2 linked regions of the Homo sapiens genome follow. The protein of the gene in region 1 purifies or fractionates together with the protein of each later gene. This does not show direct contact. Each region holds a gene or a part of one and is shown on either strand. Other genes may lie near its edges. The genes, in order: BSDC1 and SERINC3.

The links.
Region 2: the proteins of BSDC1 (region 1) and SERINC3 fractionate together in Homo sapiens (co-fractionation; one large-scale study listed by BioGRID). This does not show direct contact.

Annotation. Positions count from the first base shown.
Region 1 is NC_000001.11:32,380,750-32,384,569, reverse strand, and holds part of BSDC1 (BSD domain-containing protein 1), read left to right. Parts: intron 1-521; coding exon of another isoform or gene 522-572; coding exon 573-740; intron 741-3,301; coding exon 3,302-3,356; intron 3,357-3,820.
Region 2 is NC_000020.11:44,511,935-44,515,754, reverse strand, and holds part of SERINC3 (serine incorporator 3), read left to right. Parts: intron 1-1,714; coding exon 1,715-1,876; intron 1,877-2,760; coding exon 2,761-2,954; intron 2,955-3,820.

The sequences.
Region 1 (3,820 bases):
GAAATTGCAGTATTACAATGCTGCAGTTTATTAAGCGTATGCTGTGTGCCAGGCATTGTCCATACCCTATCTTTTAATCTTCATGGTAACCCTATGAAGGATGTATACTTAACCCCATTTTATAATAAGGAAACTGAGGTTCAGAAAGGGTTTCGGTCTCATGACCAACAAGTGGTAGAGCAAGGATTCAAACCAGCTTTGTCTAACTCCGAAGCTAGTACCCTTTCCACCACTCTACCCATAGGCTCTCTTCCCTGTTGATGTGTCTATGGCATGGACCTTCTCTGGCCAAGTTTTGACCGGCCTGACTGACCTTGAAATTTTGATGAAACAGCCAATCAAAGATCTCTGATCTACACAGGCCTACCATGGCCCTGTTCTGCAGCCCCACTTGGGGGATGGAGGACCCTTGCCTCCTCCCTCTCCTGCAGCCCCAGAGACGGGTGAAGGGTCGTGAGCGCTTCCCTGGTCCCCCAACACACGGTACACCTTTGCCCCAATGTTTTACCCCCATACCCCAGATTGCAGCCTGTTCCCGGGGCGCTTGCTTCCTCTGCCCGTTCTCTATACAGACGGAAGGCTCCTCAGGAGCAACAGAGAAGATGAAGAAAGGGTTATCTGACTTCCTAGGGGTGATCTCAGACACCTTTGCCCCTTCGCCAGACAAAACCATCGACTGCGATGTCATCACCCTGATGGGCACACCGTCTGGCACAGCTGAGCCCTATGATGGCACCAAGGTATTCACTGACAGTCTCCCCTGCAGATGCCTAACATCTGTAACCTGGGCTTTAACTTCCATCCTGTACTCACAAAAGCAGCCCATGTTCAGGCCAAAAAATAAATATGGGTATATTATTAATAGTAAATCAGAAAATACCAGTAAGCAAGGACAGGATAATTATTTTTAAACTCACAATTGCATCACCCAAAGAGAACCCCTGATTTCTTATTGGTATATAACCTTACATTTGTTTTTGTTTATAAACATAGGTAAAGATAGTTTGGTTTTTTCTTCTGAACAAAAAAGACATTTTATACATGCAGTTTTGTAACCTACTTTTAAAAAATCAACAAACATAGCATCTTTCCTAATCATCTTTTTTTTTTTTTTTAATGAGACAGGGTCTCACTCTGTCACCCAAGCTCTCTCTGGGGCTCAGTGGCACAATCATGGCTCATTGCAGCCCCGACTTTCCAGGCTCAAGGGTCCTTCCACCTCAGTCTCCTGAGTAGCTGGGACCACTGGCGTGAACCACCACACCCAACTAATTTAAAAAAATTATTTTGGTAGAAACGGGGTCTCACTGTGTTGCCCAGGCTGGTCTCAAATGCCTAGGCTCAAGTGACTCCCAGCTTGGTCTCCCAAAGTGCTAGGATTACAGGAGTGAGCCACTGTGCCCAGCCAGCCATAATTTTTAATGTCTTTAAATTCTTACAAGTGAATATAGCATTATTTATTCCATTATTTCCTTCATGTTGCATATTTGGATTCCTTTCAGCTTTCAAGCATAATAAGGAACGCTGTGGAGAGCATTTTTAGAGGCATAATCTCCACATTTGGGTTATTTAGACTAATTTCTAGTAATACACGTATAGGTAAGGGGAGAGAGGTGTCTTCAGAGCACTTAAAGCAACAGCCACAGTAGCGTATTTTTGCTGCATTTTCTTTTCTTCTTCTTTTTTTTTTTTTTTTTTTTTTGAGACGGTCTCACTCTGTCACCCAGGCTGGAGTGCGGTGGCATGATCCCAGCTCACTGCAGCTTCAACTTCCTGGTCTCAAGTGTTCCTCCCACCTCAACCTCCCTAGTATCCCTAGTAGCGGGGACCACAGGCGTGCACCACCACACCTGGCCTTTTTTTTTTTTTTTTGTAGCGATGAGGTCTCCCTATTCTGCCTAGGCTGGTCTCAAACCCCTGGGCTCAAGTGATCCTCCTACCTCAGCCCCCTAAAGTACTGAGATTACAGGCGTAAGCCACCGCGCCTGGCCACATTGTATTTTCTATTTCATGGAGTGTTTTCTTCTAAATTCACAATATAATGTCATGGCAGTTGGGCCCTCTTCGTAGTTTTTTTGTTTGTTTTTTGTTTTTTGTTTTTTTTTTGAAATAGGGTCTCCCTCTGTCCCCCAGGCTGGAGTGCAGTGGTGCGATCACAGCTCATGGCAGCCTCGATCTCCTAAGGTGCTCCTCCCACCTCAGCCTCCTGAGCAGCTGGGACTATAGGCACACATCACCACGCTCAGCTAATTTTTATGCTTGTAGAAATAGGGTTTCCCCATGTTGCCTAGGCTGGCTTTGTAGCATTTTATCACATTGACTTCTGTTTTTTTTTTTTTTTTTGAGATGGAGTCTCTCTCTGTCGCCCAGACTGGAGTGCAGTGGAGCAATCTCGGCTCACTGCAACCTCCACCTCCTGGGTTCAAGCGATTCTCCTGCCTCAGCATCCTGAGTATCTGGGATTACAGGCGCACATCACCATGCCCGGCTAATTTTTGTATTTTTAGTAGAGATGGGGTTTCACCATGTTGGCCAGGCTGGTTTTGAACTCCAGACCTCCAGAGATCCACCTACCTTGGCCTCCCAGAGTGCTGGGATTACAGGCGTGAGCCACCGCACCCGGCCCACATTGAACTTTTGTTCCAAAAGTACTGATTTTTCAAGTATGTGTTTTAGCACTAGCATTAGCGCCACCACTTAGTGAACATGTGAGTGGAATTGTGAAAATGTTTGATAAGATTTTGAGCTATAACGACAGTGAATTATCACCAGACCGCTTACACATAGCCCATGCTTCCTGCAATACTGAGGAAGAAAGGTGGACTTTGTCTTTGCCAGCTAAGTTTGCCACCCTGTGATCCTAGTGGGAACGTAACTTGGTAGAGACTGGCTATACAATTAATAAATTCTTGAGTGGTTTTAATTTGAGGGAAATTGTGTTATTTTAAAATTTGTCCCTAAATTTTGACTTTATTAACATATTGGCACTAACATTTTTCAAATTTTACTTACTACAAAGCATTTTATACAAATAATTTTGTAGCCTGCTTATGCTGTATTTTCTTAGTTCTTGGGGTAGAATACTGGGTGAAAGGCCATTTTTCTGGGAACCCCAGTTTTGGATGCCTAGCCTAGTGCCCCACTCTCTGTGCCACAGTGCTAATTAACAGATGCCCTGGGGGTATCCCAGCCAACAAGGGAGAAGCTGGATTGTGGTTGACTGAGTATCCTGGCAGAGAAAGGGTGCTTTCTATGCCCAGTATCTCAGAATTTCTGTTTTCCTCTTCTCCTTTTCTTACAGGCTCGCCTCTATAGCCTGCAGTCGGACCCAGCAACCTACTGTAATGAACCAGATGGTGAGAGGGTAGCACTGAGCGGGTGGGCTTGTAGGGCAAGTAGACTAAGGGGGCTGGGTTGTAGACCCTGTTTGTCTCAGGTAGCAGAGGCCGGGCACCCCCTATGTAGGGAGACCAGAGTGAGACTAGTGTGTACCTTATACTTTGTGGGGTGGGTGGATGTTCTCTTTTCTTTCCTGAACTTGAGCTGTCCTGCCCACCCTGCAGGGACTTGGCCCCTCTCATCCCTCATCCTCAGCTCAGCCTCCCTCCCAGCCCTGCTGCCCCCCTTGCCTTCTCTTCAGCTCCTGTTAGCTAAGCCCCTGCCATGCAGCAAACCCCATTATGGGAACTGGAGATCAGAAATGAGCCAAACCCTCCACCTAGTCCAACCCTCCAGGAACTGGCAGTTAAGAGGGGGAAAGCAGAAACAGTCAATAAAGTAGAAATACTAGAGAGCAGCATGACTGCTTCTGCAGAGCAGC
Region 2 (3,820 bases), on another chromosome or scaffold:
TGCTTGAACTCAGGAGGTGGAGGTTGCCGTGAGCCGAGATTGTGCCACTGCACTCCAGCCTGGGCAACAGAGTGAGACTGTCTCAAAAAAAAAAAAATAAAAAAGCGTATAGTGGCATTTAGTACATTCACAATGTTTTGCTGCCATCACATCTGTCTAGTTCGTCGCCCTAAAGGGAAATCCTTTACCCATTAAACCATCACTCCCATTTCCCTTCCCTTCAACCCCTAATCTTCTGTCTCTAGATTCACTTATTCTGGATATTTTATTATATAAATGCACTAATACAGTATGTGACCTTTCATGTCTGGCTTTTTAAATAACTTTGCATGATGTTTTCAGGGTTCACCTGTGTTCTATCATGTATCTATCTATTATGTCTGAATAAGCCATTGTATAGATAGACCAAGTCTCACTCTGTTGCCCAGGCTGGAGTGCAGTGGCATGATTTCAGCTCAATGCAACCTCCACCTCCTGGGTTCAAGCAATTCTCCTGCCTCAGCCTCCTGAGTAGTTGGGGCCACAGGCATGAGCCACCACGCCCGGATAATTTTTGTATTTTTAGTAGAGATGGGATTTCATCATGTTGGCCAGGCTGGTCTTGAACTCCTGACCTCAGGTGACCTGCCCACCTCAGCCTCCCAAAGTGCTGGGATTACAGGTGTGAGCTGCCGCACCCAGCCAGATATACCATATTTTTACTTAGGCCATATTTACTTATCAATTAATGGACAGTGGGTTGTTTCCACATTTTGGTGATTGTAAATAGTGGTGCTGTGAATATTCGTGTACAAGCTTTTGTTTTAATAGCAGTTTCAAACAAAACAGCTATTGGGGTCGGGTATATACTTTCTGGGTCATATGGTCATTCTGTATTTAACTTTCTGAGGAACCTGGTTCCTCTTGAATTGAGCTAAATGGCCCTTGCTGTTATTATTTGTCAGAGGGTTTCCATGTAGTGTTGCTTTATTTTTTTATTTTATTTTATTTTTTTGAGATGGAGTCTCGCTCTGTAGCCCAGGCTGGAGTGCAGTGGCGCAATCTCAGCTCAGTGTGAGCTCCGCCTCCTGGGTTCATGCCATTCTCCTGCCTCAGCCTCCTGAGTAGCTGGGACTACAGGCGTCCGCCACCACACCCGGCTAATTTTTTCTGTATTTTTAGTAGAGACAGGGTTTCACCGTGTTAGCCAGGATGGTCTCGATCTCCTGACCTTGTGATCCACCCGCCTCGGCCTCCCAAAGTGCTGGGATTACAGGCGTGAGCCACCACGCCCGGCATGTTGCTTTATGTTGTAATATCAGCTTTGGTAACTTGGATTCGCAGTAAGCAGCAAGTGGAGTTAGGTTTATATTTTTCTCATATTTTAAAACAAATGATGCTCTCAGAATATAATTAACATTTATTGAACTGTTAATGCATTTTAGGTAGTGTTGAGTGCTCATTTAATACAGCAGAGTCTGAGGGAGGAAAATTCCATTATTGAGCTCATTTTACAAATGGTCAAATGGGGTTAGAGTACGTAACTTGCTGGGGTAAAAAGCGGCAGAAATAATATTTACTCCAGAGCCCGTACTTTTAACCACTTCCTCCCAGCCATGATTCTCTGAGTTAAAACTATAAAGCCTGATTTGCCTCGCTTTCTCTTCTGCGACATCTGTGTCATAAAGGAGTATACTGAAGGCGGTCTCAGGTGACCATGGTGTGCTCATTCCAGGTTCCATGCCTCTGCAGCGGTGCCTCATGTTTGCTGTGTAGTTGCTGTCCTAACAGTAAGAATTCCACGGTGACTCGCCTCATTTATGCTTTCATTCTCCTCCTGAGCACTGTCGTATCCTATATCATGCAGAGAAAAGAGATGGAAACTTACTTGAAGAAGGTAAGAAGTAACAGTGCCCTTAAGGTATTGGTTATTTTTATTTTTATATTCTGCAAAATTCTAGTTTTATTTCGTCGTTGTTAATCAAGTTGGTTGTAATTTGGAGATTTTTTACTTATATGGGGGTGTGGTCAAAACACAGAAATATGAGGACATTAGTCCTTTTCCAGAAATACAGAATGAACATCTGGGCTCCAGTCGAACAACTGAGAGAAAACATTAAAAGGGTGGCTCCAAAACATTTTCTTTCCTTATGTGTTAAAGGTCGAAGCATCTAAACTGGACTAGTTCTTCACCTTTGGAAGGACTCAGTCGTAGCTGGAAAATCTCACAGGAAAGTGGCACACAGCCTCTTCATCCTAAAAGGGCAAAGAAGAGAGACCATATTTTTTTGAAACTAAGACTCACTCTGTTGCCCAGGCTGGAGTGCAGTGACATGATCTTGGCTCACTGCAACCTCCGCCTCCCTGGTTCAAGCAATTCTCCTGCCTCAGCCTCCCGAGTAGCTGGGATTATAAGCATGCACCACCATGCCCGGGTAATTTTTTGTATTTTTAGTAGAGATAGGGTTTTCACCATGCTGGCCAGGGTGGTCTCGAACTCCTGACCTCGTGATCCACCCACCTCGGTCCCCCAAAATACTGGGATTACAGATGTGAGCCACCGTGCCCAGCCGAGAGAGCATTTTTATTTTTAAAATGCATGTTATTTATACTGTTTGGTAACAAGATTGTAAATGAATTGGAAGACAAAGAGAAAAATTCCATAGTCAGTCTTGCAGTTGTTGAAGTAGTTAATTTTCTAAATCCAGGCTTTCCTGCAGTGGGTTAGAGTCTCTGTCTAAATGTAGATATTCTCGTAACATTGAAATTGCTTTTTTCCAGATTCCTGGATTTTGTGAAGGGGGATTTAAAATCCATGAGGCTGATATAAATGCAGATAAAGATTGTGATGTGCTGGTTGGTTATAAAGCTGTGTATCGGATCAGCTTTGCCATGGCCATCTTTTTCTTTGTCTTTTCTCTGCTCATGTTCAAAGTAAAAACAAGTAAAGATCTCCGAGCGGCAGTACACAATGGGTATGTTAGATTTATGATTAACTGGTTACATTATGGTGTGGCTCTTCCTTCCCTTCAGCAGTTAATATAGCCATTCTGATGAAATCAATGGAATATGTAAATGAGTGGCTCAGATGCATTTCTGATCTATTATGCATGTGAAATTGTTTTAATGTCATTTTCAGTTAGATTGCTGTAACATGGAGGGGATAGGGGGTCTTGTCTTTTTATTTTCTTCTATTAAATTCCTTTGCTTCATGTTCTTAGATTTTTATTGAACACCTGTTAAATAGTTGAAGCACTATGCTAGATACTACGTACACACACACTTTTTTCTTTCTGTTGTTTAAAGATAAACATGTACCTGATAAATTTAAACAGTGTACAAAAGTCAGTGAATATATATGTGCTACTGATTTACATATTCTATTGCTTCTGACTCCTGACCACCTTTTACCTATGTTTCTAATTCTCTCCTTTTTTTTTTTTTTTTTTTGTTTTGTTTTTGGAGATGGAGTTTCACTCTTGTCACCCAGGCTGGAGTGTAATGGCGTGATCTCGGCTCACTGCAACCTCCCCCTCCCGGGTTCAAGTGATTCTCCTGCCTCAGCCTCCCTAGTAGCTGGCATTATAGGCACCTGCCACCATGCCTGGCTAATTTTTGTATTTTTAGTAGAGATGGGGTTTCACCGTGTTGGCCAGGCTGGTCTAGAACTCGTGACCTCAGGTGGTCCGCCCGCCTTTGCCTCCTGAAGTGCTGGGCTTACAGGCGTGAGCCACTGTGCCCAGCCGTATTTCTAATTCTCAAAGACTGAATGGCGTTTTATAAACTTGATGTGTATTATAATCCCCTTTTTACAGATGTAGTAACTGAACTGCAGAGAGGT